4 linked regions of the Homo sapiens genome follow. The protein of the gene in region 4 purifies or fractionates together with the protein of the main gene of each other region. This does not show direct contact. Each region holds a gene or a part of one and is shown on either strand. Other genes may lie near its edges. The genes, in order: PDCD10, RAB5A, WDR20 and ALS2.

Region 1 (7,795 bases), on a different chromosome or scaffold from region 4:
CTTCCCATCATTTATGTAGTTCAAACTACATTCCAGTTTATGCACATTTCATTGTTGTTTTAAAATTAAACATTCTAAAAAATGCTGTACTCTGAAACCAAACGCCATAAAGTTAATAAAATGTGGTATTTAAAAATTTGAGATTTTATTTCAAATAAGCATTTCAAGTTAGTCATACCAAAATTAAAAAATGTAGATGAGTAGTTCCTCGGAAGTACTTTTAAGAAAAGAAGAAACAAAACAAATAATTGCTTACTTGATTGTCTGCAGAAACCTCACTCTGTCATTGATCTCATCTGGGATCTTACTGAGAATTTGTTTAAGTGCTCGTGCCTTTTCGTTTAGGTCTTGGAATTCTGGCTCTGGTCGTTCAATCATATACTCTGATAAAATAAATACATAATAAAAAACATCCTGCGACTCTCTGCCAAATTCATCACATCTAAGAATTTCCAATGTTGGTCAAAGGCAGGTGAGGGAGGTGAAAGGCCAGATAATTAGGAAAGACAAGGTTGCAAAGCAGAATTCATTAGCGTTTGACTTAGTCCAGTAACAACAGCAGGGCTCCCTTCAAGTAAAGTATCACAAAAAGAAAGAATAAATATTTTCAATTTGGGACAAAAGGACATCCCATGAAATCTTAAAAAAAAAAAACACACAAAAAAAAAACAGATTTAAAAGGGAGGCTTAAGTTCAACCGTACTCTGACATTACATTTCCCAAGGAAACCTTAAATTAAATAATGAGTGTCATAACTAGTGCAAAGGTAATATCTACTTGCCAACTGGAAAGATTAAAAATTTAAAACCCCTATATTTAATATACATTGCTTCATCATATTAAAACCCCAAATAATCTAATAAAATCTTCTACACATTTTTGAAATCTCACTTAAAAACAAAAACACCAGCACAAATCCAACACACAGGCTGGGATCACAGAACACCAATTTTGGAAAGGAGACTTCACTAGATTCATTGCAGACTTGGAAGCATTACAACTCTACCAATTCATCAATATATTATGGCCTAATGGGCTGCAAATGCTCAACTCTAAATAATGATAAGGGCTTTCTTAAAATCATGGAATCAGTTAAAATACCTGCTTTGTGTTCTTCCTTAATAATTCTGGGAAATTATATGTCCATATTTTTCTAAATTAGTGGGAAAACTGCTACTAAACTTAAGTAAAACCAACGTCTAAATAATTTCAAGTAAAAAAAATAAGAAAAGTAAAAAGGATGGTTATATTATTCTCTTAAATCTGTGCTTGAAACACAGATGCTGTACTAAAGTTAAAAAAACAACAAAACAAAAACCTCATTACTTTCAAACTGTTGTTTGCTTAAAGTCAACACATTCCAAATAAGCTTATCTTTTAGTAAAACTGAAACTCACCAAACATAAAGGGGGGAAAAATTGAAGTATGCAGCATAAACAAAGTTCAAGTAATTAAATCTCACAAATATAAAAAGCAAGAAAAACCATTTTTCTATTTTATCTACATTAGCTTCCACTATCACTATCACCACCACCACCATCATCATCATAAGTGAAAGGGAGGGAGGGAAAACAGTAGGGAAGGAAGATCCTTTGGTCAAATAATAATGATTTAGAGGAAGTGCTATTTAACAATTGTATAACTTAAACAAGGTTCTTCTGTCCGTTACCTTCTACATCATCAGCTGCCATACGAAGAAGGGACTCCGTGAAGTTAACTTCCACGCTTTTTTTCTCTAAAATTTTCATAATGATGTCTTGTGTGAGACCTGGATTTTCTTTTTCAGCCTATAATAAAGAGAAAACTAGTTTTGAAATACAGATAAGGAATCAACATTTTAAAGCCAAAGTTTAATTGTTTAGAATCTGTTGGGAGCGTCTTACACTGATAACTTTTAAGGGCAGAAATCTTTGTAAAGCAGGTGTCATGATAGCATTCACTAAGGCTTTGTTAGAGCTTGTGCACCCGACTCTTTACTATGACTAAGGTTCCATTTTCCATTTGAACAGAAAGAACTTAGTATTTTCTACTCTTCTTTATACTCTTTTGCAATTGAACTAATAACAAAGATAGAATTAAGGATTATATATGTTTTAGTAATCTATCAATTGCTATTCTCATTACTTTAAATATCTTGAGAATTTAAGCTTTTTTTAATGTGCTAATACTGCAACTCAAGGATCAAGCAATAACTCATCTGACTAGTGTTTTGCATATTCTTTCCATTTATATTAAGAGAATGCCAGGAAAAACAAAAAAGGATTTATTTTGAAGGTTTTACTGAACCTATATAATAATACCTTAACTATTTTCCCACACAATGATTTTCATTTCCTATTTTATTTTTGTAGCAAGAATATTTCCTTCACTGGTTTCTAGAACATCATGAAACCTTTTACTACCTTTTGAGCTTGTTTCATTGAGTTTGCATTGGTTCTATGTTACTTAGACTCCCCAAGACACTAAAATTTTCTAGCCATTTCAAGACTGGGCATAGAGTTCTGAGTTTACCAAAGCCAGAGTTAATCTTCAGATTTCAGTTTTTCCCAGTAAATTCTGTAATCACACTTGATGTTTGTTTCCTGTAGGATGCCTGCCAATTTTAATCATTATGCTGATGATTTTCTTTCCTTTTTGCCCTAATATTAAACAGCAAAATAGAAACACAATTTACGATCTTAATCAGATGGCAATCTTTTTGTTTCCTTATGTGTCAAGCACACTTAACCTCCGCCTCTTCAATTCCATTGATTATCACTGCAGATACAGTTTTCTTCTCTTCCTATTGCTCTTTCCATTATAACATCTTGTTTCTCATTAGATCTCAAGTATCAAAAACTGAAGGGTTGTGGGATGAAATGAGAAAAGAAAATACACGCATTTATTCCAATCTTCGGATCATTTTAAATGCTGTCAGATACTATTCAGGAAAATCATTTTGATAGATGATTAATAACAATAAACTGTGTTTGACTGAATCCTGTTTCTTTTACAGCCTATGTTGACTTTTCCTTCCATGGATATATATTTTAAAAAGAATCTACTTTTTAGCCAGGCATGGTGGGGTGTGGCTGTGGTCCCAGCTACTTGGTAGGTTGAGATGGGAGGACTGCTTGAGCCCAGGAGTTCGTGGCTGCAGCGAGCTATGATCATGCCACTGCACTCCAGCCTATGATACAGAATAAGACCTCGTATTAAAAACAAAACAAAACAAAAAAAACTGTGTTTTTTAAAAAAGGAGTTTCCTTTATAAGATGTCCAAATATGGCTTAAGATGTGTTGTTATAGCATTAATGCGGTGAACTGCCACAAAATTACATATAATGTAGCATTCAGTAACAATACTTTATCTTATCTAGCAATAAATCTTCCTACATAATGAATTATCTTGGGGAGAGGGGGAACATTCTCTATGTGCTTGCAGGGGACAGAAAAAGAAAAGCATATCTCTGATTAAGTTATAATAAAGTACTGAAAGGTTAAAATGCTGAAAGTCTGAGAATAAAGTTTTCAATACCAAGCTGGTCTGGGACCCCAAAATGCTAAAGCTAGAGCATTACAAAAGTCTCACAAAGGTCCCTAACTTTCTCAGTTTTCAGTGTCCTTAGTGCCAAAAGATACACCTCACAGTGCTGTTTATTAAATACTTAGGTCTAAACAACTTAATAAGTATAGTGTCCTAACTACCTAGCCTTTAAAAAAATAATACACATAAATTGAAAAAAACAATTTTTACTCTGTTCTTAAATAACTATTGTCACTTATTACTGGGATGTGTGTGCCTACTGGGCACTTCATAATTTCTCAAACATTGGTCTTAGATTGGACCTTGCCCCTCTCATTTCCTCTTGCAGATATATTTTTTTCTGGTACTTCTGTTAGATCATAGCACTGGCCAAAAAGTCCAGCTTCTCAATGATCTAACACCAATGAAAGCAGTGAAGGACAATCCAATATGCTAAATTGCAATCCATCTCAAGCTAGGAGTCCATGCAGTGTCAAACAGATGTTGAGTATCACTGTACACCTTCACAATTTTAAAATACTTCGTGGCACCCCTCTGAATTTGCTATGGGCCACCAGGTACCTCAGTACATAGTTTGGAAGGAGTAGTCTCAGTACCTCCTGGCTAAAAACCTGGTTAAGCTAATTCTTATTTCAAAAGCTTGAATTTACCAAATGGCTCTGACTGACAAAATGAATAAATATGGTCTTAAATCAGGGAGACAATCTACAACTCTTAGGTTTTCCCTCAGAATACAACATGAACCCTGTAGGGTGTCTAATCTTTGTAAAGAATCCAGCTGTAAGAAAAAAATAAACCGAAGGGCAGCAACATACACTCTTGTGGATCAGTGATTCTCAGTCTGGAAGACGGACAACCTATCGGAACCTCTCATAGAGGATAAGGGGGAGAGGGAATCAAGTAGAATATAGCTGACCCTTGAAGAACTGGTTTTAACTGCTCAGGTCCATTTACATGCAGATACTTTTCAATAAATATATAGGAAAAATTTTTGGAGATCAGCAACAATTTGAAAAAACTTATAGACAAACTGAGTAGCCTATAAGTAGTGAAAAAAATAATAAAAACACATGTTATGAATGCATAAAATATAGTTATCCACTAGTCTATTTTAGTATTTACTATAAAATAGATACAAATTATTAAAAAGTTAAAATTTATCAAAACTCACACGCAAACAGACTGTACATGGTGTTATTTGCAGTTAAAAGAAATATAAACAAATATACAGATGCAATATTAAATCATAACTGCACAAAATTAACTGTAGTACACGTGTATATGTAATAAGTTTGAAGCCACCTCCTGTTGCTATTGCAGTCAGTTCAAGTATTAGTAAGTATATGATTAAAACGCCATGTGACTCTAATCAACTCCATGTGAACAGTTCATCTCTCCAGCAAACTGCACATCCCAGTACAAAGTAATACCTCCCAGCCCTCACATATTTTTCTCATCGTGTTTAGTGCAATACTTTAAACATGGGATAATACCATGGGACCCGACAAAGTGCCACTAGTGATGTTGGAAGTGTGCTCAAGAAGCAAAGTCATGACATTACAAGAAGGTGTATTGCATGATACTGAATTGCTTGAATACAGTCTAAGACTCACTGTAAGAAAAAAAAAAAAGGAAATTCATGAAACAAAGCCATTGCTGCAGCTACATCAGCAGGTACAAAAACCTTGCATGTTTTGTGAAATACCTTTTTGTCTCCTGTTGAAAATGCAGCTTTTATGTTGGTGCAGGATATCTATAAGAAAGGCATACCTATAGACCCTAATATGATTCAAGAAAAAGCAAAGTCATTCTATGACAACTTAAAGCAAAAGGAAAGTCTAAAGCTGAAGAATTTAATGCCAGCCAAGGATAGTTTGATAATTTTAGAAAGAGGTTTTGCTTAAAAAATGTCAAGATAACAGGAGACCCAGATTCTGATGACCAAGAGGCAGCAAATAAGTCCCCACACACCATTAAGAAAATCTTTGAGGAAAAAAATATCTGCCTGAAAAGGTTTTTAATACAGATCAAAGTGCCCTATTCTGAAGGAAAAAATAGCCACAAAGAATATTTATTAGTAAAGCAGAGAAGTGAGCACCAGAATTTAAGGCAGGAAGAGATAGGACAACTCTACTGTTCTGTGCAAATGAAGTCTGGTTTATGATCAGGACTGTCCTTATTTATAATGCTGCTAAACCCTCAAGCCTTGAAGGGAGAAGAAAAACACCAGCTTCCAGTCTTGTGGTTGTACAAGAAGACCTAGACAAAGAGAACCCTTGTTCTAGCCTGGTACCATCAATGCGTTGTTTCTGCGGTTAGAAAGCATCTTGGCAGGAAGGGATGGTCTTCTGAAGTTCTTCTGATTGTCTATATATATCTATAGAGATACCTATATATCTCTATATAGCTAGATCTACAGATATCAGATATATATTGAGATATCAGATATATATATAGATATCAGAGATATCTACATATACATACACACACATATATATGTATTGTATATTTAATTAGAGACAAGGTCTTCCTATGTTGCCTAGGCTGGTCTTGAACTTCTGGCCTCTGGCCTCACACTTCAGCCTCCCAAAGTGCTAGGATTACAAGGCATGGGCCTCCGCACCTAGCCTTTATTATTATTGTTGTTCAAAAAAATTCTTCTGATACTGGATAATGTCCCTTGCTTCCCAGAACCCCATGAGTTCAACACTGAAAGGCATCAAAGTGGCCTACTTGTCCCAAAACACCACACCTCTAAATCAGCCTCTACATCAGGGGATCAAGAACCTTTAAAGCTCATTATACATGGAACCATAAGGCCTCTATGGAAATGGCTGTCAACAATCCTTGGTAGAAAGAATACCATGAAAGTCTGGAAGAATTACACCACTGATGCTACTGTTGTTATAGAAAAACCCATCGAGCCTAAAACAATAAATTTCTGCTGGAGAAAACTGTGTCCACATGTTGTGCATGACTCCACAGGATTTACAACAGAGCCACGGAAATCATGAAAGAGATTGTAGATATGGTTAAAAAAAACGTAGAGGATGAAAGGTTTCAAGATATGGATATCAGAGAAATTTAAGAGCTAATGGACAATGAGGAAGAAGACAAAGGAGTGCCAGAAAACAAATGGACATTAGACAACCCAGCAGAAGAGTTCTCTTTATTCAAGGCTGCTTTATGACATGGACCCTTCTCTGATACAAGCACTGAAACTAAAGCAAATGTTGGAAGATTGGTACTGTACAGAAACATTTTTAGAGAAATGACAAAGCAAATAAGTCAGAAATTAAACATATTTCTGTAAAGTTACACTAAGTGTGCCTGCCTCTCTTGCCTCCCCATTCACCTTCTCTACTTCTGACATCCCTGAGCTAGCAAGACCAACCCCTTCTCTTCTTCCTCCTCCTCAGCGTATTCAATGTGAAAACGACAAGGATGCAGACCTTATGATGATCCACTTCAACTTAATGAATAATAAATATATTTTCTCTTATGATTTTCTTAATAACACTTTCTTTTCTGTGACTTTAAGAATACAGTATGTAATATATAGGATACACAAAACATATGTTAATCAACTGTTTTTGCTACCAGTAAGATGTTCTGGTCAACAGTAGGCTTTTAGTAGTTAAGATTTGTGGAAGTCAAAACTTATACTCAAATCTTCAACTCTGCAGGGGGTCAGCACCTCTAACCTCCACACTGTTCAAAGGTTAACTGTATATACATTAAAATATTCAATGGTATTATCTTGGGAAAAACTATTTTAATCCTCTTTTCCCTCCAAATAACAAAAACCATGATGAAAATTATTGTCGTTGCGGACCAATAATTGGAATTATGAATATAAAAGATTTTATGACTGGTGAGGTTTCTTTCATCTTTTTCAAAAGTTGTAATTTAAAAAATACAAGCATCTTTACATTTTTAACATGTCCTCCTTCAATTTCACTTGAAATGTAACAAACTAAATGTGATAATTAAAAATACATCAGTGTAAAATTAGTTACTTTGTTTTCTTCCAAAATAAGTAATCTATGCCATAGACAACAAACTTTATCCATGGATCAAACCACATCTATCACGGTCACATAATTGTACTTAAGTGTTAGATAATTAGCTTATATGTTAGGATGTTACAAGAAAAACCCTCAGGAAATTTATTATTTTATTTTATGAATGTCATTGAAGATACTATCTACTCCTTCGGACAGGGTCTTCTTCTCTCTGTTCCTGGCATTAGAAAAGCTGAAATATTGA
Region 2 (7,795 bases), on a different chromosome or scaffold from region 4:
CAAGCATCTTTGTGATACAAGGCTTTAAAAGACTGTCCCAAGTGACTGTGGGAAAGAAATTATTAGGACTATTGTATTATGAGACATTTTCGTTTTTTTTTAAAACCAGATTTTCTAATTCACAAAAGCTTCAGCAGAAAGGTCATGACTATCAGAAAAAGATTTTCCAAAACATTTAATCAAAATTCTGAACACCAAAAGTGGGTACTCAAATTAGTTTTACTGTGGAATGCATCCATACTTACCTCATTTGTGATATCATATACAACTATGGCTGCTTGTGCTCCTCTGTAGTACATTGGTGCTAGGCTATGGTATCGTTCTTGACCAGCTGTATCCCATATTTCAAACTTTACTGTAGTGTCATCAAGACATACAGTTTGGGTTAGAAAAGCAGCTGAAAGAAAAGGACTACAATAAGTCAATCATTTTTCTCCAAATGTTTTCATAATATAGAAAACACCTGCTTGTATACATCTATCAAAATGTCACACTGTACCCCGTAAGTATGTACAACTATTATGTGTCAGTTAAAAGTAATAAATGAGGGGGGAAAAAAAAAGAAAACACCTAGAAACTTGACAGATTGCATACCCACAGCTGATAATAGCTTTAAATACTGGCAAACCTGTGCTTCTAAGCTATTTACATATATGCTTACATATAGGGCCTTTGTAGTGAAATCACAGATTGAAAAACTTCTGCATCTTAAAAAAGCTTGTTATAATACTAAATAAACTTAAGACTACATTTCTTTTCCTTCTTCTTTTTTTTTTTTTTTTTGATACAAGAGTCTCAGACTAGAGTGCAGGGGCGTGATCTCAGCTCACTGCAACCTCCGCCTCCCGGGTTCAAGCAATTCTCCTGCCTCAGCCTCCTGAGTAGCTGGGACTACAGGCATGCACCACCACACGTGGCTAATTTTTGTAGTTTTAGTAGAGATGGGGTTTCACCATGTTGGCCAGGCTGGTCTCGAACTCCTGATCTCAGGTGATCCGCCCACCTTGGCCTCCCAAAGTGCTGGGATGACAGGCGTAAGCCACCAAGCCCAGCGAAGACTGCATTTCAAAATTGCTCTACAATTAAAGAAATGCACTGATAGTCTTAAAAAATGAAGTTGGGGGAAACCCAGTGTGCCTAAAAGTACCATCTATACTGCTGACACCATGTCCTGTTCCATTTTACTAGTTTTTATTGGCGCACACTGGCAATTTAGTCCCAGTCAGTTACCACCAAATTAGTATTTCTTGTTATATTATCTTTTTTTTTCTTTTTCTGAGACACAGTCTTGCTCTATCTCCCAGGCTGGAGTGCCTCCCAAAAGTGCTGAGATTATAGGCGTGAGCCACCGTACCAGGCCTCTTGCTATATTATTTTTTAAAACATTGTGACACTTTAATTGTGGTAGTCATTATTACCTTAACCTAGATTTAATTTGTTCAGTTGATTCAATATTTGCTCCTACCTTTCATTCCCTGCCATAAGAATTTTTTGGATCTGTACTTTCCCTGATTCTAATTTTAACACTAGGAAAGTAGCATTATAGGCCAGGCGTGGTGGCTCATGCCTGTAATCCCAGCACTCTGGGAGGCTGAGGAAGGCAAATCACGAGGTCAGGAGATCAAGACCATCCTGGCCAACATGGTGAAACCCTGTCTCTACTAAAAATACAAAAATTAGCTCGACATGGTGGCGCTTGCCTGTGGTTCCGGTTACTCGGGAGGCTGAGGCAGGAGAGTCGTTTGAACCCATGAGGCAGAGGTTGCAGTGAGCTGAGATCGCACCACTGCACTCCATCCTGGCAACAGAGACTCTGTCTCAAAAAAAAAAAAAAAGTAGCATTATAAAATGATACAATATTGTTAAAATTAAAAGACCTACACACAGCCATTAGACCGCCCTCTGCTGCTGCTCTATCATTCACTGTAAATTGGTATGCTCCTCCCTTCCTTCTACATTTAGCTCAAGGTGTGATATTCAAGCCCTATTTCCAAATTGGTATGCACTTGAATTACCATTTTCTAAAACTGTCATATTATGCAAAAGAATTATGATATATTTCTCTAAATTACAGCCGTTTATCTAGTGACGTTGATAGAGATGTACTAACCAGTATCAAATGTGCTAAAGAAACAAAGTCTAATGAGATATATCTCTTTTACGTTAGACACAACATTTATTTTTCACGCTCTTTTAGGTTAACTGGTTGCTGGCTTTAGTATCAACAACTAAAATCTTCTGAATTTTGCAAACAATACTGTAAACATCTTCATTTGGACCTAGATTCTAATTAATAGTTTTATGAATTCTCATTAATCACATTGTAAATATATTCTAATCCAGTTCAAACTTTTTTTTAACCAACAATTAGCAGAATTGTCCATTTTCTAAAATATTGTATTTATGGTAAAGGATATCCAGACAGCACTATGTCACTTTTTGAAGGTCACGAGAGGTTCTCCTGTAGGATCAAAAAATGTTTTTAAACTAAAATTTTAAACTAAAATTAAGTCCCTAAGACAGTACTCTTACCAAAAAGGAAAAGAGGAAAATAAGTCACAATACATAAGCCTTTTTTCAAGTATAGTTTGATGCAGACTTGCAAAAAAAAAAAAAGGAATTAAAATGTGCACAGACTGTTTCATTTTTCAGACATACTATGATCACAAAGTCTACTAGTACTAAAAACATTCACTTATACGTCCATAAGTAAACTTCAGGCTCAGGGAAATAACTATAGTCATCCCTCAGTATCTGTGGAGGACTGTTTCCAGGACCTCCCCATATATCATGAAGGACTGGTTCTAGAATCCCCAATGGATAACAAAATCTGAGGATGCTCAAGTCCCCGATATAAAATTGCAAAGTATGTGTATATAACCTAAGCACATCCTCCTGTATACTTTAAAGCATCTCTAGATTACTTATAATATCTAATACAATGCCTGCACCTCACGTCATCCACATAGATTCAACATAGTATTAAGTGTGTGGCAAATTTAATTTTTGCTTTTTGGAGCTAAGTTAATTTTTTCCCCCTTAATATTTTCAACTTGCAGTTGGTTGCATTTATAAATGTGGAACTCACAGATTCAGAGGGCCAACTGTATTAGAGATGTTGCCTTAAAGAAAATATGATCCAATTCTCAAGCCAGTTAAAGACACAAGAGGCCACCATACATGTACACCATACATGTACAAAAATGCCAAATACAAAGAAATTGCAACAAATACATTAAGACAAACAAATGCCCATTACCAAGTACATTCTTTCAGAAATACAAAACTATTACATTAACAGGCTAATGAAGAAAAATCCATTTTATTTAAACAAATTACAAAAAGGCATTTGAGTCAATATCCATTCCTAATAAACACACGAGATTCTTCCTTATGGCAAAACAGGGCATCATTCCTAAATCTAGGAACAAAACCAAGGGAAATCATGCTGAACAGGAATGGATCCCATTCAGATTAACAAAGAAGATAATCAATTCATTCCTCAACTCTGCTTAGAAACCTTCCTTCATTCCACCCTAGTTAATATCTCCTACATCTGTGCTCCCAGAGTTCTCTGTGTAATAACGTTTCACACCTTTTATAATCATTGGTTTATATCTTTTTCTTCTCCTTGATTGGGAGTTACTTGAGCAATGACCACAGGTTAAGTATCCCTTATCTGAAATGCTTGGAACCAGGAATGTTTTGGATTTTTAAAGATTTTGTAATATTTGCATAATGAGATATTTTTGGGAAGGGATCCAAGTCAAAACATGAAATTCGTTTGTTTCACATAAAGCTTGTACACATAGCCTGAAGCTAAAATAATTTTGTGCATTAAACCAAGTTTATGTACACTGACTCATCAGAAAGCAAAGGTGTTAAGTGTGGAAATTGTTCACTTGTGACATCATATTGATGCTCGAAGAATTTGGGAGCATTTCAGACTTCAGATTAGGGATGCTCAACTTGTAGTAGCTCCTCTCTGTACCAACATTTAATATAAATCCTTGTTCATACAGATGTTCAAAAATGTCTACTAAAAGAAGGAAGTTCAAAAAGATACATGGAACCATTTAGAGGCTACTTCAGATAACATTTGAATGTAGAGAGAGGCAGCTCCCAAATGTGAAAAAATAGATATTTCACAAGGTATCTACTCAAGTTGTAACACAACCTCAAAAACAACATCAAGATATTTTTCACCTGATAACACTGTACTGGGCCAGGTGCGGTGGCTTCCACCTGTAATCCCAGCACTTTGGGAGGCCGAGGCAGGTGGATCACCTGAGGTCAGGAGTTTGAGACCAGCCTGACCGGTATGGCGAAACCTCGTCTCTACTAAAAATACAAAAACAATTAGCCAGGCATGGTGGTGCATGCCTGTAACCCCAGCTACTCGGAAGGCTGAGGCAGGAGAATCACTTGAACTCGGGAGGCAGAGGTTGCAGTGAGCTGAGATTGTGCCATTGCTCTCCAGCCTGGGCAACAAGAGTGTAACTCTGTCTCAAAACAACAACCACCACCACCACCACCACCACCGTACTACTGTTCATGTGGTATGATAAAGCATAATTTTGGGGGAGAAAAGACCAACATTAGAGGCCAGGGAAAATCAGTTTTATAATATACTTTAAAAAATGAAAAGTGCTACAGTACTAAATGAACAGAAATATTACTGGAATAGTGTAGCCCACTATAATAAACTCTTGATATACATAATACACCCTAAGACGTTCATGATTTCTCAAAGTCCTAAAGTTTTAAAATACTACTATAGTGTTTTTTTTTTTTTTTTTTGAGATGGAGTTTAGCTCTTGTTGCCCAGGCTGGAGTGCAATGGCGCGATCTCGGCTCACTGAAACCTCCGCTTCCTGGGTTCGAGTGATTCTCCTGCCTCAGCCTCCCGAGTAGCTGGGATTACAGGTGGCCACCACCACGTCTGGCTAATTTTTGTATTTTTAGTAGAGATGGGGTTTCACCATGTTGGCCAGACTGGTCTTGAACCCCTGACCTCTGGTGATCCATCCGCCTTGGCCTCCCAAAGTGCTGGGATTACAGGCATGAGCCACCACACCTGGCCAAATTCCACTACAGTGTTTAATTTCCCCTATAAAACTCGGTGAAGTGTAACTGACATTTAGGTGACATCTTCAAATCCTCAGTGCTCCTAAAAATACATTACTAGTAATTTATAAAGTTACGTAAACAAATTCTGCCACTGAAAAGATAAAACTACTACATCAATACTGTAGCAACATTAACCAACCACAAACTTACCTGAATCTGTAAAACCACTTTAATTTATCCAAAACGTCTATTTTCTGGCTAAGAACCATCACTCTTAGACCGCTTCATTTTCTCTTCACTTCCATCACCAGCACTAGCAGTTGGTTTTCTTTTCGGGCCCATATTTCACAAAGAAACAGCTTTTATCACTTCGAGAGTTACTGTGTACGCGATGACAAGTAGAGAAAAACAAAGCTGCGTTGAGATGTGGGTGCTGGCCTGTCTGATAGGCTCCCTCTGAGCTACGTGATCAGCTCCTATTTGCAAGCCTGGCAGCAAGCAAGTAACATTTCAGCCTCAGCAAAACTACAAATTACTTTACCACAGACCCTGGAATCAGGTGAGAATAGCTGAAGCTTTAAATGTCAAATCTGCAAATACCAAAGGCCTATTATAATATGCAAGACTTAAACAGTAAGCCAGGGGAAGACACTGTAACACACTGGGCAAGGGAAAGGATATTCAAATTGATGGCATTAAACCAAAGATTAATAATTAAAAAACAAAGTGGCTGGGCATAGTGGCTCACGCCTGTAATCCCAGCACTTTGGGAGGCCGAGGTGGGTGGATCACAAGGTCTGGAATTCAAGGCCAGCCTGACCAACATGGTGAAAACCCGTCTCTACTAAAAATACAAATTAGCCGGGCATGGTGGCCGAGGTGGGTGGATCACAAGGTCTGGAATTCAAGGCCAGCCTGACCAACATGGTGAAAACCCGTCTCTACTAAAAATACAAATTAGCCGGGCATGGTGGCATGAGCCTGTAATCCCAGCTACTCAGGAGACTGAGGCAGAAGAATCACTTGAACCCGGGAGGCAGAGGTTGCAGAGCCGAGATTGTGCCACTGCACTCCAGCCTGGGTGACAGAGTGAGACTCCGTCTCAAGAAAAAAAAGAAAAACAAAGTAACCGCCACCCCATAACTAAAATGATTCTACATGAATTAAACAGAAAGGGGAAAAATACAAAAACTGAGAAACCATACAACTTCAAGCCCAAACTTATTATTTATCAAAATTGACAGGAAAGAATTGCTTTATTAAAATTGACCAAAATTCTATATAAGACTACAGATTTGATTACACAAAAATATGAAACTTCAGGTTTGCAAAACTTGTGTCATAACATCCATAACAAAGGGGCAAACCTAATGAGAAAAATTTCTACAATGGATGCTAAGTGATTAGTATTTTCAATGTGTAGAAAGCTATTATAAATGTTTAGAAAAACTTTAGAACCTCAGGGATAAATGTGTAAAGACAATTCACAAAAGAACAGAAAAGGAGACCAGTAGTCAATGAAATCATCCACATAGTCAAAACAATTTTTATCTCCTAAATTAGCATAATGAAAAAATAAAAATACAGCAGGCATGGTGGCTCACGCCTGTAATCCCAGCACTTTAGGAGGCCGAGGCAGGTGGATCACTTGAGTTCAGGAGTTCAAGACCAGCCAGGAACATGGTGAAACCCTGTCTCTATTAAAAAATACAAAAATTAGCCGGACGTGGATGTGGGCGCCTGTAATCCCAGCTACTTGGGAGGCTGAGGCAGGAAAACCGCTTGAACCCAGGAGGCGGAGGTTGCAGTGAGCCAAGATCGTGCCTTTGCACCCCAGTCTGGGCAACAAGAGTGAGACTCCATCTCAAAAAAAAAAAAAAAACCAAAAAAAAAAAACCAAAACCAAAAAACACCAATTTGCAAAAAACCCAAGCACAGCTGGTGATTTCGTACAACTCCGTTGGAAAGGATTTTGGCAACATGTAGCAAAGGCAAGAAAATGCTAATACTTTTTAACCTAATAATCTCACTAAAATTCCAAAAGATAGTGTGAGGGCAGGAGAGTAGGTAGAACAAACTTTTATGCTCAAAGAATTTAAAACTATTTAATAATTAAAAACAACCTTGTTAGTGAAATGAAATCCATCATCAAGAATTGGAAGTAAGGCCGGGCACAGTGGCTCATGCCTGTAATCCCAGCACACTGTGGGAGGCTGAGGCAGGAGGATCACTTGAGGCCCAGAGTTTGAGACCAGCCTGGCCAAAATGGTGAAACCCTGGCTCTCTATTAAAAATACAAAAATTAGCTGGGCATGGTGGCACGTGCCTGTAGTACCACCTACTCAGGAGGCTGAGGCATAAGAATACCTTAAATCCTGGAGGCGGAGGTTGCAGTGAGCTGAGATTATGCCACTGCATTCCAGTCTGGGTGACAGACTGTCTCAAAAGAAAGAATCAGAAGTAAAGTAACTTGTGGGGAAAGAATGTAAAGAAAACACTGGGTAGTTTGGCTAGAGTATAATAAATCAGATTTTCTGGTTTTCAAAAATTTGAATTGCAGTAAAAGGAAATTTCGATGTGCTATTTTTTTCAATTTTCGGTAGTAAATAAATGTGTATAGAGAAACAATAATATAGACTGTCATATTTGAGTACCTTTAAAAAAACAATCCCAATGTGTAAGTGAAAAAAAATACTAGTAACTAAGTATTAAGTAGCAATTAAAT
Region 3 (7,795 bases), on a different chromosome or scaffold from region 4:
GAAAACACTACCATCCCAAATGCCATCAACAGACAAGATTTTCAAAATACACTAGTTAAAATGAAACAAGAATAAAAATAAGTCTATAACCACATCAAAGTGTCATTTTGTGAAAGCAATTCACACTGACGCTTTCTAAGGCACTTCATTTTCTTTTTCTTTTTTTTCATTACTATCAATATGATAAGCAAAAATCAAAAATTAGTTTGGGGGTGAGTGGATCTGCATTTCAAAATGCAGATATTAATTTATAACAAAAATACTGAAACAATTCAAAAACCACAGCAGCTGCTTGAAAAGCCATAATGCAACCACAAGCAAAAATGGCAACTAAAGGCTCTGATGATGTAAAGGCATCTGAAGAGGGCTCAGGAAGTATTAGGAAAGGGTATTTCAAAGCCACATTAAGATGGGATCGGATGTCGTTTTATCTGTGTTCAAGCTTTAAGGAGTAGATCATTACGGGCTCATTTCCTTCCTTCGATTAGAAAATCAACAGAAACAAAACTAACAAAATGTGCAGACCATTCCTTTGTATCAGAATAGACAGAACACTGCTAAGCTTTACCCCATGCCTGGGAGGCACCTGCAGCTGGCAGGATGTGCCACGCAGCCTGGGCTGGCAGCAGTGTCCCTCCATACCCCAGGAGTCAGGGCCATCTCCTCTTCAGCATGCCCTTCAGTAAGACTGGATCTAAATGCCACAAGGAGACGTGGGACCTACCCAGTGTGTCTGCCTCAGCCTCACAGCCTGCGAGAGGAGAAGGGCAACAGCAGAGGGTATCGTGTCAGTAACGAAAGAAGCCAAATGCCAAGTTCTTTAACATTTTATATTTCAGCCAACAATTAACACATACTTGAAAATCCTTCAAAGTTACTATTCTGTGAATATACTCCAAAATCAGGATTTTTACACAGACAACAAGGTTGCATTCATTACCATATAGGAACTGTCCCTTTGTAACTCTTCCTCCCCAAATATATAACCATTAGTTATAAAAAGCAAACTTCAGAACAGGGCAGAGTGAAACACACACACACACACACACACACACACACACACACACACAAAAAAAAAAATTTAAAAAGTAAACTCCTCGCCCCTGTGGGGTGCTTCACCACAGTGAGCTGAATGTGACCGGGTGACTCTCCTCTGTGGGCAGCTCTGATGATGAGGACACGCTCCACGATCTGGGAGCTTGTCAGATGAACCGTGCGCCAAGATACTTTCAATAATGGCCCATTAGACATTTTCAAGGGCATCATATGTACAGAACGCTACAAACAGAAACCCAAAATCTACTCTGGAAGATTGGGGAAAGCAGAGACTCCAGGGAGCTGGGGATGATTTCCTGAGAGGGGCTAGAAAGGACTGGGCATTCGACTTTCTTTGGGTCTTGAACAGATGCACCAGCAAGGACCTCCAGTGTGACTGAGGACAGTCCCAGGGAGCGGGAAGAGGGCAGGGCCTGCCCATGCTCACTGGGCTGACCTGATCAGGGCCAGACTTGGAGATGAAGTTTGGTGAAGTTTGCCTTCACCCCCAATGGAAGGTGTGAGCCCTATGGTGTCCCCTCATTGAAAACAATCACAGACTGTGAAAGTCAACAGTGAGCGTCACGGTTTAGAGGTGATGCTTTCCTACCTTCTTTGTACCTCTCTATTTTCCAATTTTTCTATCAACAAGCATTTTAAATGCACACAATTTTTAATTGACAGGGGGAAAATCATCTTTTAAAATATACTTGTTCCCAGATGGGAATTTTTCATCTATGTTTATCTCAGGTGGATTTCTGAAATTTATAATTCCATTTCACTCATCTTTCCATCCCAACATTTATTACATTTTCATGTACCAGGCACCAGAAAGGAGGCAAAGGCCAGAGTAACTGATGCTGGGGATTCGGTGTGTGAAGGTGTGTGCACGTGTGGTAACAGGTGGGTCTGAGAGGTGTTCTGGTGAGGAACACTGAAAGGCCACATTGCTGTAATTGTGACCAGCGGGCCAACCCTCAGCCTCACACATGTTGACTCTCTGCCTGGGTTGCCATGCTCCTACCTGCTTGTCCTAAAAAATTAATTATTTGTATTTCAAAACGGTTGGTATCTCACCTCCCACGGAACCCTTTCCGTCCAACACCACCCCTCCCAGGAAAGGAAGCCTGAGTTTCTCTCAACCTCCACGTTGCTGAGCATCCACCAAGGCTCGCTCTTCAGGCCCTTCACAAACACCCTGCCTGAACTCACTCATCTGAGCCTCATCACAAACCTCTCAGGTGGGTGCTGTTCCCACCCATTTTCCAACCGAGGAGAGGTAAGACCCACATCATCCTGCAAGCAGAAAGTGGCAGAGCTGGTGTCCGAGCCCTCAGCATTCTGGGCTGTGAAGTTGTAAATGTCGTGGTAATTAACTGTGTGTTAAGTGCCCCTTTGAAAGCAGTAGCTGAGATGGCCAGAATCTTGGAGTATAATCAGGCCTCAGACCCAGGCCTTCTTTGTTCTCACCATCATCTCTCCAAAGAACCTTTCATCTAATCTCAAGGATGTGATTATTATTTCTATGCTGACAACTGCCAAATTGTAACCCCTAGTTTTGTGCTCCAGATCCATACATCCCACTATCTACAGGTCTCTCGAACTTAGCAAGTACAGACCAGAACCTCTGATCTTCCCCTCCATTCCCTGACAACTGCTCCTTTCCCAGTCTCACCCAACACAGCAAGAGACACCCAGAAACCTGATTTATTAATACACCTTTCCAATTCAGTCTCCAAAAAGCAGCCAGGGTACCTTTCAAAAACACCAATCTGCCTGCCTTGTGCACCTGCTCCCTTCTAAGGAATCCCGTACTTCAGGCTAAGAAACAAATCTGGATCAGGCCGTAGGTGATGTGGCCCTCCAATCTCATGCCCTTACTTCATGCCACCTTCCCCAGGTAAACCGTCCTTCTTTCAGTTTCCTTGGGCTCAAGGGCCCTCATGTGCTATTCCTTTTGCAGGAAAGCTCCATCTCCAGTTCCTTACCTGGTTGGCCTTCTTCTCACATGAGGCACAGCTTAAAACATAGCACTTCGTCCGAGAGATGTCCTCTGCCTCCCAGTTTAAAGTAGACCTCTGTGTTGGCCAGGCGTGGTGGCTCACGCCTGTAATTCCAGCACTTTGGGAAGCTGAGGTGGGTGGATCACTTGAAGCCAGGAGTTCCAGACTAGCCTGGCCAACATGGTGAAATCCCGTCTCTACTAAAAATACAAAAATTAGTCAGGTGGCCTATAATCCCAGGTACTTGGGTGGGTGAGGCACAAGAATAGCTTGAACCTGGGAGGTGAAGGTTGCAGTGAGCCAAGATTGCGCCACTGCACTCCAGCCTGGGTGACAGAGTAAGACTCTGTCTCATAAATAAATAAATAAATAAATAAATAAATAAATAAATAAATAAATAAAGTAGACCTCTGTGATTCTCTCCCTTTCTTGGGCCTGCTCTCTTGCCTCTTACATCACAAAGTGTCACCATCTGTGGTCACCAGTGTTTCGGGGGTGGTGCTATTATACCTCTCTTCCCTCCTGAGAGGGGTCACAGGAGGGCAGGTTTTGCCCACTGCTGCAGACCCAGTGCTGGGCATGTGGTAGGTAGTCAAGGTCCTGAATGAATGAAACAATGGCCGCAACTCTAGTTCAAGCCCTCAGCTCTCACCTGGACAGTTACTAGAGCCTCCTCACTGGTCTTGCTACCTTCATTCTGTCTTTCTTCATTCCAATCCACCTTCCACAAGTGCTGACAAGAGTTCTAAAAAAACACATTTGATCCTGTCACTCCCTTCATTAAAAGGCCAAAGGTTCCCCCACATCTTCCAGTGTCAGTTCCAAATTGCTTCACGTGACATGAAAAGGCTTTTATAAGACAAGCTGGTTCCAATTTATCTTTCCAGCTTCGAACTCTGACACTCCAAGTCCCACACTGTGATGTGGCCAAGCTGTTACTGGATGTTCTTTCACATGCCTAGTTGTTCCTCCAGCTTTGAAGGCCTTCCTTACCCTCCTCTAATGACTATGTACCCTTTAAGACCCACATCAAACATCACTTTCTAAAAGCATTTCTTGGAACTCCCCCAGTGAACTTAACATTTTAAAAAACTTTAAAATGCATACTAAAGAATTCCTGCGGCAGCTAGCCCTTGGTATTTTGTTCATATCGCTGTGCTGACACGTGCCCAGTACTCTCTGTCCATTCTTACTAAACTGTGAGCTCCCGGAAGGGCAAGAGCTCATCTGGCAACCATGCATGGTGGGTCCTGTAACCAATGAGTTTCTGGAATTAATTTCTGGTTCCAACTCTATCATCAACTTGCTACCTGATCTGGACAATTCACTTATGTGCTCTTTGACTATTTCCTCATCTGTAAAATGGGAACAACTCCCCACCCTCCCTGTAGAGGCCATAGGTAAAAGTGCCTTGAAACCTGTAAATGTCACACCACAGCAAAGCACGACACGATGACTACTTCACCACCATTCCTGGCACTCTCTAAGGAACAAACCTCCGGTGACCCTTGCTCTTAGACATTCTGACCAAAATCTGATAAAAATGTATCCACATGGCCAGAGGATCTCCTTACTATGAAGGGCAATCGATTTCAGCCTCAAGCTGTAAATGCAAAGCTGGCATTAAACCACACACAGTCTTAGCATTCTAAATAGCAATTTCTCAAATAAAATGTAAAGTGAGTATGAGATAACTCATGCTTAAATCATGAAGAATGAGGAGCTGCCTTCCAGCCTGCAACTCCCAGTCACCAGGGCAGGGATAGTTCTGGCCAATGCAGCCTGAGTGCTCCCAGAGCCCTGAGATTCTGGGGACGTGTGGTCTCCAACTCCCTGCCCTCCCCCTGCCACGACACACAAAACTTTCTTGTTCTCTAAGCGGCATTCTGTACCATCCTCGGCCAGGGCTGCCTCCGGGTCTTGTTTACTAACAGCCCTTACATGGCTCCAATCCCTGCCCCCTCCAATCACACTCTCCCCTACCTAAACAATAAAAACCCACAATGATTCCAAATTCACAATTTCTGCTAACAGTGCAGAGGAGGCCAATTTTGTGCGCTGCTCCCCAAACTCAGCACCAAAAAAATAATCATCCAGCTACTTAGAAATCACTTCTGCAGATGATACTAAAAAAACATCTAGGTAAATAAAATATTTTCTGCTTAACTTTTTTTTAATGGAAAATGGGATTAAATACTTTTCCTCTACAATCTGTCAGTCCAGATGGCAAGTTTTGTTTCCAGTCAACTCAGAGGAAACTAGAAGAGATGGCATGGTTCATAAGATCTTATCAAATCCACTGGCAATGTCAAACAGGAGCACCCTGGGTGGATACTGATTTGCATGAATAGCAAGTACCATAACTGCAAAAGAATCCAAATTTTAACTGCCATTTGTCAATTTGAATTTTCTTCCCCAAACAAAATTATTTCTTAAAAACCATACTCTATAATGTGTTTTTGTTCCAAGTTAATGATGTTAAAACCATGCAACAATGCAAAAGGGAGGGGGTCCCACATAGCCTGACCCTTGCGCCTCAGGGGCAAGGTCCCAAGTAGAGATTGGAACCCAGGGCTTCTAACTCAGCAAGCCTACCTTATCTTTTCCACTTGGTAGAAAAGTCATACTGAAACAGACGAGGAAGAATATTAAATATGAAATAGCAATACTTGAGGCTGAAAGATGCTCCAACAGCTTTAAAAAATATAATCTACTTGGCAATTTCTATATGCCACATTTAACAGTCCTGACATGTTCCTGAACAGACAGCTCAGATATCTCAGGCTCTTTCCAGAATGAAATTGAAGATACTAGAAACCCCAGTACATACTACAACACTGGCAAAAGCTATGTCATGTGACCAAACTTTAAGCGCCAGGATTTCCAACTATGTCAAAGATGAGTTTACAGTAACTATTTTCAAGAGCAAGTGAAGTACTCCTTAGCCAAATGACTGTCAAACATACATACAAAAGCTTTGGCTACAATTTAAGCAGCCTAAGGAAATGTCATCAAGTTCTTTGATCTGCATGAAATGTTCTGGTGATGTGAACCAACTTTGGAATTCCACATTTTCTTACTTAAATTATAAATACCGAGTTACAGTACTGTCCCTATCTCCATTATAGAAGAGTTTTAAAACACCTGTTATAGACACCTGAGCATGCTCCATAAAAATGCACAAAACAGTCACCCCAAGGAAGAACAGGTAAGGTCAACAAATTAATCCACCACATTTAAACTTGGGCATACTAGGTAGGAGGGCTGGGCGAATAAAAAATGGGCTTAGCTTGAAGTGCAAAATAAGGCCGACTACCCTCGGTAAGAATGTATCAACTCTTAAAGGGATTCTTAACAGCTAAGACAGGGTGCTACTTACTTCCTCATTAAAAAGTTTGCTAGTTTCTTTTTTGATTGGGTCTATAAGCTGGACTTGGCCTGCGGAAAAGCCCACTAGGAGAGAGACACTTTCTGCTGTGGCTGTTAGGTGGTTGAAGTCATGACAAGTAGGCTGTGTTCCTTTGTATATCCTTTTATCTATTGGTTTACTCAAGTCAGCAGCCTGGAGGAGAAAGAGAAAAATACATACAGTAAACAGCACATTGAGATGAGAAATCTAAGTTATGCTACTTTATACTCCATTATGATGTTTCATCTTAAAAACAAAGTGATTTAAAATGTTTTTTCAGTTGTGACTTAACATCATCTAACATTTTATAAAAGCACTTTCACATACCTTAGCCAATTAGATATTATTAGACTATCTATAATATGTTTACAACTGTTACTTTCACAACTTATTCTCCTTCAAATATATGTAACAAAGACTCCTGGACTTCAGCAGGAAATATCCTTGAGATATTAAATTCAGTATTTTCAAAATGCATTTCAAGCAGTGTCTAACAGAGTAACCACATAAAAAGCTCGGCTTTCAAATGTATCTACAGCACCTACATGCCCACTGGCCAGTTACCTGCAGCCCAGTGGTTCTCAAAGTGTAATCCCCAAACCAGAAGCAGCAGCAGCAGCATGTGGGAACTTAGAAATGCAAAAATCTCAAACCTCACCCCAGACTAAATGAATCAGAAACTATGGGAGTAGGGCCAGCAAGTCGTAAAGAGGCTTCCAGGTGATTCTGATGCCCGCTCAAGTCTAAGAACCACTGCTGGAGCCCACTCTATACAGGTGGCTCCCTTCCTGGGTCAAAATCCCTCTTCTGGATTAGGTTTCGGGGAACATTACTTATCGAGGCCATAATCAAAGGACTTTACATGCATTGTCCTTAATCCTAACAATAATGCTCCAAAGTGGACAATATTTTACCCATTTTACAGATGAGAAAACAAGTTTAGGGAAGTTAAATAACTTGACCAACGTCACCATACCTACCTAAGTAAGTGGCAGGGCTGGATTTGGAACCCAGGTCTGTTTGACCATTAAGGGGATGGGGAGAGAGAGTCAAAAGCAAATGATTTCTCACTTGGGTGAAAAGTGATTTTTCAATGTGCCCTCCCCACTTTCAAGAAGGATTCTTTTCTTCATGAGAAATGTCCTGTGGCATCCCAATATGCTGGGCTTTTATTGGTGAAATAAGGGAAACCCACCCCCTCCCACTCTTGTCTGAAAATCTCCAGTGGAGACAACTAACCCTGAAGCAGAACTTGTCCCTCAAGACACCCAGTTCACGCTGTGTGGCCCTCTGGGGCTCCCGGCTCTAGTTCTCTACTGACCGCCCCCTCAGGTTCTGAAGATTTCTT
Region 4 (7,795 bases):
ACTCAAAATACAGTTCCTTCTCCAAAGTACTTCCTTTTGTCTAGATGTTGTGTTTTTCTATGGTATTTCAAAATAAGCCTCGGCTGCTTTTATAAAATTAAACACAGTAAAAAGGGAGGGAGAAGAAAAGGCATGGAAAACACTGCCTTTAATGCCAAGTGCACTGTGACAGCCCTGGACAGAAGATTGAAAAAATGCAAATTTCATTATTGATCCCTTTCAGGAAAATTTATACAGACTACTACCTAGAAGTGGCAGGAAAAAAATTAGATTTTATGAAGAAAAAAAAAGCTTTCCCTGAAATGCTTTATAAATTGAAATTTAGATATAGCATATGGAGATGGAAAAATAAGTTATACCTGTAACCTATCATCTCCCAAATTATGCTCAACTCGAGTGCCTTTACTGGCTCATCAATGAGTTATTTTCTATGACCCAGGGGCTAGAAAAGCTGTAGGATTACCTTTGCTCTTGCTACCACAGATGGCAAATGTGGTAGGTTAATAATTAAACATTTGGAACCAGTGTTCTTAGTGTGATTCTAGAAGTGTACTAGAAAGTCAAACTAAAGTTTTCTGATATCTTAATGAAAAAATCAGTTGAAATTTACTCTAAGCTGTCAAACATCATTGTTCCCTAAAAAGGAAGGTCATTAAATGTACCTACCAAACACATAAAAAAGCTTTCAGCTCATCAGCATAGATCATATTGAAAAATTTGCTTCTTATTGTACCCAAAGATCTCAAAGGGAATATACACATTCCTTCATTTGTCCTAAACTAAAATACAAATATAATGTGTGTGTGTGCGCATGTGTGTGTGTGTGTGTGTGTGTGTTTGTTTGTATATTTTAACATTGGCATCTGACTTCCTAAAGGAAATAATTCCTGGTACCTAGCGAAGTGCCTGACATGTAAGTACTCAAAACATTTTGTTGAATTAAACGCTAAATTCAAAAGAGCTATTTCCATGCAAATTAGTCTGTAAATAGTCAATAAACAAATATACTTAATAAAACGAAAAAGAAATACAAAGCCTATTACTTCTTTGGTGATACAGCTCCCACGATAGCTTGTTCAGAAGAACTAGTGTCACTATGTCCACTTTTTGTTTACAAAGGCTCCTTACATAAGCAGTGATGGTATTTAGAGGTAACTATTTTAGGGGGTTCTTAACCACTAGGTACAGCAAAGTCACAAAACTCTACCTTATATAAACCTTGAACTACTGTTCTAACTGGCTCCTTCTACTTAATTATATTTAAAAATATAGTAATAAGCCCTCCCCTACAAAAAACATAATTAGCAATTTTGATGAAATATATAATTTTAGGAGTTCCAGTCAACCAGTAATACTTTGGTTTATTTCCCAAGTGAGAGAGTCTCAGTTATATCTCGCCAGAAGAGAAAAAACTTGCCCTAAAACAAATAAATTCCTTGTGAATTAGCTGTATGATTGAGATGTTATTTACAAAGAATAAATTAAATGTAATAGAAACACACATTTAATTTAAATAAATTAAATTTAATTCAATAGAAACACACACATTGTTACTAGCATAAGTAACAAAAACTTCCAATGTTTAACAAAGTAAGTAAAATGTGATAAGCATGTACAGTCTAAGAATTTTCTACATGCATTCTTGTTAAACTACTACTTTTGCTTTGTTCAGACTTTATAATACCTTTCTCCAAACAGCTTATCCTTGATTTTTTTAAAAATTCAAATACCCACAAGTTTCAGTGAATAGATTGTGAAATAAAGACTATTTCTAAAAATACCTTCATGTTCACATTCTGACAGAGTAAACAATAAGAATTGAGAATCAAGAGGCTATGTGGTTTCAAAAACCTAAAAAGAAACACTGCAGGACAGATCTTTTATGAGTATGATCTTTTGTTTTGTTTTCTTACAGTTTTGGTAAAGCAAAATCAAAAGGCCACACTAAGAGTAAAACACAGAAATAATCCTTTTAAAACAATTTAGTTTAAGCGGGAACTCAAACTTTACCATGTGCTACTGATAAACAACTTTTGTTCATTCTACCACAAATCTTCAAAATGAAAATAGTTTTAATAAGATATATAAAATAGGCTGGGCATGATGGCTCATGCCTGTAATCTCAACACTTTGGGAGGCTGAGGTGGGAGGATTGCTTGAGCTCAGGAGTTTGAGATGAGCCTGGGCAACAGGCTCTACTCTACTTAAAAATAAAATCAGCAGGTGTGGTGGCATGTGTATAGTCCCAGCTACTTGGAAGGCTGAAATGGGAGGATCGCTTGAACCTGGGAGATCGAGGCTGCAGTGAGCCACAATCGCATTACTGCACTCCAGCCTGGGTGACAGAGCAAGACCCCATCTCAAAAACAAACAAACAAAAAGATAAAATATTAGCCACCTCTTCAAATTAAGCCCAGTAAGGACCACAGCTATAATTGAAAAAAACTGAAACATGTAATTGCCTGTAAGTTTTAAATCTGCCTACAATTGAAGGATCTGCCACAAAACAATCTTCCCTGTTAAAGAAGGAAAAGACTTTTCTCTACAGAATTCTGAAGAGTGTTACAAACACAAGTAAGAAGAATCTTTGTGAATCTCTAGTTATATTAAACTATTCAGGGCCCACCAAAATTCAGTACTTTAGCCATAGAAAAAAAGTACTAGCAAGAAAAAAAAATGAAATGCTCCTACTTATAAAACAAGCCCAACATGACACCTTTCAATATCATAAAGGGCCAGAACAAACATAAAGAGTGATTTTGAATTAATCCAGGTTCTTTCCTTTATCTAGGCTTGCCTGATAAAACAAAATTATAATCAAACTCAAAAAATAAAAAATGCTACCAAGCCTTACTCATTTTAAAGTTTCTAAAGAAAAGCCCATACAGTTCAACTCTAGACACACTTTTATTTTATAAAATTGAGCAGGTACCTGAGATGGCACTGGCTTTTCACCATGCTCTGAGTCCTCTCTTACTGAATGATCTGACAGTTTCCGTAGGTATTCATTGACTGCTTGGGTGTCAGGGTATGATGGTATGTTTCTGGCAGAGGAAATTTCAGTTGTTCCCATGACATTTTGTTGAGAGGACATGGCATCGCTGCTTGTGATCTGAGCACTTACTGCATTCAGTTCAGTAGCAACAGACTGATCATTTGCTACAAGAGTGTTCTCAAATACTTCTTCCTGCCTGTCAAGGGTTTCAGTGGAGGGGCTGAGAGCAGTGCTGGCATGGTTTTCTGCCTGAGATTCTGTCAGTGTCACACCTAATGGGCAACAATGACTGTCTGATATAATCACATGGTCTTCTTTGTCAGTCATAGTAATCAAGAGCTGGCTGCACTGGTTGCATCGTTCTGGGACTGGCTTCAGATCCTGGGAAGGGAGGCATTGTACAAGGGCTAAGCTGTGGAAAGCACCACAGGCAACTTGAAGCACCACTCGCCCAGCAAGATGTTCTACCTTTTGCGGCTTTGTCACTGGGAAGGCAGTGGTAATGAGACCCAACTGACAACCGGTACCCCATGCCCAAATCTCTCTGCTTATTGACAATGCCAGAGTGTGCTCCTCGCCACACGCCAACTGTAAAATCCTGACTGCTAACAAAGGGCTGGCCTCAGAATCAGCAATGCTGACAGGATTTGGTTCCGGCACATACTGCTGGTTGGCTACTGCACACTGGCCAGCAGAATTCTCTCCCCACATGTACGCGACACCATTGTCTGTCACTGCTCCACTATGGAAGCTTCCTGTTGCCACAGTAATAACATATTGCCCAACCAGGGCATTTTCTAGAATGGGGCTACTTGGACAAATCTCCACTGGTCCACTTCTCCAGGGAAGAGTCCCAAAGCTGTAGACCTCACCATCTGAAGGTTAAAAAAAAGAAAAAAGAAAAAAAAAAGGGTTAGTGAATTAACTAAAAATTTTAACAGCAAACTTTTAGTCCCCTATAGATTTAACCAAATTGGATTTTCTTTTTAAATTTTCAAAAGCAGTTGTAGAAATCTGGTTCAAGCACACAGTATTTCACATTAATTCATCTTTTTAAAAATGACTCTTTTTAATATTCTGCACTATAGTGAGAATTTCTACAAAGTGCAGGAGGCTAATCCTTTCCTTCAGCCTCATCCTACAAACTCCTCACATCAATCCACTCCTAACGGCCATCATCCAGGCTATTATAGAAACAGATTCCAAGTGTTCAAAGGCAAAATAAATAACCATGTTAAGATAAAATAAGCAAAAAATAAGACAAAACAGACACATTCACTAATATCTACAATTCACTACTACTAAACAAGTTGGAACAGCAAAAAATTATGCAATGGCTTAAAAATATTAGCGATTCATTTTGGCCAAAACTAAGAAATTAACTTTATGCCTCTAGGCTGTACAGGAAGCACCAGTTCTTAACAAGACATGGCTGTCTTCACTTTGTATGTCACATTATATATAGTTTTGAGATGTTACATAAATATACAGGTTGAGTATCACTTATCCAAAATGCTTGGGACCAGAGGTGTTTTGGATTTCAGGTCCAGGTTTTGGAATATTTGCCTTATGCTTACTGACTGAGCATCCCAAATCTGAATGTTCCAATGAGCATTTCCTTTGAGCACCATCACATCAGCACTCAGAAAGTTCTGGATTTTGGATCATTTTAGATTTCAGATTTTTTAATGTGGGATGCTCACCCTGGACTTTATGTACTAGATACTAGCTAGTCTTTCTGAGGTGAGATTTGTTTAAAAAGCAAATCAGCTTCTTCTCTGAAAAAACATCAAATGGCAGATGAAGCTAGGGCAGCAGGAGGGCCCAGAGGCCCCAGAGACCCTGGGATGGGGAACCACAGTGACTTCCATGGAGGCTTGGGCAGTGGCATCTGGGGCCAGGGTCGGGGCCACAGAGCTCAAGGAGGCAAGGCTGAGGATAAGGAGTGGACACCCATGACCAAGCTGAGCTGCCTGGTCAAAGACACGAAGATGAAGTCCTGCTGAAAACCTATCACTTCTCCCTGCCCATCAAGGAGTCTGAGATCATTGACTTTTTCCTGGGGACCTCTCTCAAGGATGAGGTTTTGAAGATTGTGCCAGTGCAGAAGCAGACGCGCACTGGCCAGCACACCAGATTCCAGGTGTTTGTTGCCACTGGGGACTACAATGGCCACTTGCTCCAAGGAGGTGGCCACTGCCATCCAAGGGACTATCATCCTGGCCAAGCTCTCCAATGTCCCCGTGCACAGAGGCTACTGGGGGAACAAGATCAGCAAGCACCACGCAGTCCCTTGCAAGGTGACAGACTGCTGTGGCTTTGTGCTGGTGCGCCTCATCCCTGCACCCAGAGGCACTGGCATTCTCTTAGCCCTAGTGCCCAAGAAGCTGCTGATGATGGCCAGTATCGATGACTGCTACTCCTCAGCCAGGGGCTGCACTGCCACCCTGGCCAACTTCACCAAGGCCACCTATGATGCCATCTCCAAGACCTACAGCTAACTGGCCCCCAACCTCTGGAAGGAGACTGTATTCACCAAGTCTCCGTATCAGGAATTCACTGGCCACCTCGTCAAGACCCACACCAGAGTCTCCAGACAGAGGACCCAGGCTCTAGCTGTGGCTACAACATAGGGTTTTTATACAAGAAAAATAAAGTGAAGTAAGCCTAAAAAATGTTAAAAATAAAAAGCAAATCATCACAACAGAACAAAGCAAAAAAGCAAATGAACCTGTCAGAATAACTGGCTAGCTTTAGAATTAATGAAAGGCACCAGTGAGTTGGGTATATAAATAACTCATGTATGTCCAGCTATGCTACCAAGTCTTAATTTTACTGTAGTATTGTGGGAGCTTGGGAGCAGGTACACATAAGCTATGCTGGCTAAAAATTCAATGAAACAAAGACTTGGCTACGGGTTTTAAAAAATACTGAGCCAAGCCCACTATCCTTTCTTTTCCATATGACCAGAGATTTATGATTTTTTTTAATTAATGAAGAAATAAGCACTGTTTTTTTTCTCATAAGGCAGCAATTGAGTTGATGATGAAAACATGCAAACTTTATCTTTGACCTATTATACATGGCAGATACATGTATACACTCAAGTTAACTCATCACATCATCTATATAAGTAAGGACTCAATAGTGGCTACAGGGAAGATATGTGCATTTATTAGGAAATGTATAGTCTGGTTCAAGAATACTGACATGAGAAAATAAGCTCACTGGTTAAGCTCTTTTAAACTTTGTTTCCTAATACAACAGTATACTTGAAAAAGCTCACCAAGTCTTTCAATTAACATTATTCCACTAGAAAGAGCAATACTGCAAAGAAATGGATATTTAGATCCCTCTCCTTAAAAAACAAAAACAAAAACTGGAGCATATAAAAAATAGTGAAACAGGCTGGGTGCAGTGGCTCACGCCTGTAATCCCAGCACTTTGGGAGGCAGAGGCAGGCGAATCACTAGGTCAGGAGTTTGAGACCAGCCTGGCCAATATGGTGAAACCCTGTCTCTACTAAAAATACAAAAAAAAAAGAGCCAGGAGTGCTGGCACTGGCCTGTAGTCCCAGCTACTCGGGAGGCTGAGGCAGAAGAATTGCTTAAACCCAGGAGGTGGAGGTTGCAGTGAGCTGAGATCGTGCCACCACACTCCAGCCAGGGCAACAGAGCGAGACTCCGTCTCAAAATAAATAAATAAATAAATAAATAAATAAATAAATAAATAAATAAATAAAAGTGAATCAATGAGGTATCTTCATTGAATTATGAGCTAATGGTCATATTTAATAGAGATGAAGAACCTTGAAAATTTCTAGCACTCAACCATTTCCTCAGCTGGAAAAGATAGCACTGGAGGTCCGTATGCAATTTCAAACATACACTTGTGTTAGACGACGTTTTCTTTTGGTAACTGTGACACTTAATACCAGGACACTGCTTAAACATGAATAACGATAGGCTATTTAAATATTTTTGAAAAGTTTTCCTTCAGTTGTCCTAGCCTTGAAGGTATGATTCTAAAGATACCATGTTTATAGTCGAATAACTTTTTTTTTTTTTTGAGACAGGATCTTACTTTGTCAGCTAGGCTAGAGTGCAGTGGCATAATCACAGCTCACTGCACGCAGCTTTGGTCTCCCAGACTCAAGCTATCCTCCTGCCTCAGCCTCTGAAGTAGCTGGGACTACAGGCGCAGGCCTCCATGCCTGGCTAATTTTTAAAATATTTCTTGTAGAAACATGGTCTCCCTATGTTGCCCAGGAAACATGGTCTCCTTATGTTGCCCAGGCTGATCTTGAACCCCTAGGCTCAAGGGATCCTTCTGCCTTGGCCTCCCAAAGTGCTGGGATTACAGGCATAGGCAATTGTGCCCAGCCAGTTTCATTAGCTTAATGAAAATATTCCAAATATCTTATTGAAAACAACAACAGAATTCCACTTATATTTGCTTGAGAACTATATATTTTAAATCTCATAGGACAGGTATTGAATATAGTTCACACTTTTAAAGTAAGATTGTTTTTAAAGTCCTGAAGAATAATATTATAATAAAACTGATATAAGACAAACTAGAAAGAAATCCATGTTTATCCCATACAACCACCAGGACCAGATTTAATCCTTGTTTCCTAGAATTTGTCTTCCTTTAGTTCCTAGAAAGAAAATACCAAAGCATTATTTAATACCTTAATAAATACTTACAGAGCAGAAATTTATAAATTAGTGAAGTAGATGGCAATTGGTGCCCAAGTCAAATTTGTCATGATTGAGTTGATAAAGTGCCATTAAGATT

Evidence for each region.
Region 1: the proteins of ALS2 (region 4) and PDCD10 purify together in Homo sapiens (affinity purification with mass spectrometry; one large-scale study listed by BioGRID and IntAct). This does not show direct contact.
Region 2: the proteins of ALS2 (region 4) and RAB5A purify together in Homo sapiens (pull-down; one study listed by IntAct). This does not show direct contact.
Region 3: the proteins of ALS2 (region 4) and WDR20 purify together in Homo sapiens (affinity purification with mass spectrometry; one large-scale study listed by BioGRID and IntAct). This does not show direct contact.

Annotation. Positions count from the first base shown.
Region 1 is NC_000003.12:167,695,340-167,703,134, forward strand, and holds part of PDCD10 (programmed cell death protein 10), read right to left. Parts: intron 1,788-7,795; coding exon 1,670-1,787; intron 384-1,669; coding exon 257-383; intron 1-256. UniProt on the Homo sapiens protein: Promotes cell proliferation. Modulates apoptotic pathways. Increases mitogen-activated protein kinase activity and STK26 activity. Important for cell migration, and for normal structure and assembly of the Golgi complex.
Region 2 is NC_000003.12:19,968,203-19,975,997, reverse strand, and holds part of RAB5A (ras-related protein Rab-5A), read right to left. Parts: intron 5,451-7,795; exon of another isoform or gene 5,281-5,450; intron 398-5,280; coding exon 246-397; intron 1-245. UniProt on the Homo sapiens protein: The small GTPases Rab are key regulators of intracellular membrane trafficking, from the formation of transport vesicles to their fusion with membranes.
Region 3 is NC_000014.9:102,193,743-102,201,537, reverse strand, and holds part of WDR20 (WD repeat-containing protein 20), read right to left. Parts: intron 6,601-7,795; coding exon 6,418-6,600; intron 6,412-6,417; exon of another isoform or gene 5,665-6,411; coding exon of another isoform or gene 5,634-5,664; intron 3,784-5,633; coding exon of another isoform or gene 3,691-3,783; intron 752-3,690; coding exon of another isoform or gene 695-751; exon of another isoform or gene 1-694. UniProt on the Homo sapiens protein: Regulator of deubiquitinating complexes. Activates deubiquitinating activity of complexes containing USP12. Anchors at the base of the ubiquitin-contacting loop of USP12 and remotely modulates the catalytic center of the enzyme.
Region 4 is NC_000002.12:201,757,949-201,765,743, forward strand, and holds part of ALS2 (alsin), read right to left. Parts: exon of another isoform or gene 7,705-7,795; intron 5,663-7,704; exon of another isoform or gene 4,766-5,662; intron 3,871-4,765; coding exon 2,933-3,870; coding exon of another isoform or gene 2,855-2,932; exon of another isoform or gene 1,504-2,854; intron 1-1,503. UniProt on the Homo sapiens protein: May act as a GTPase regulator. Controls survival and growth of spinal motoneurons.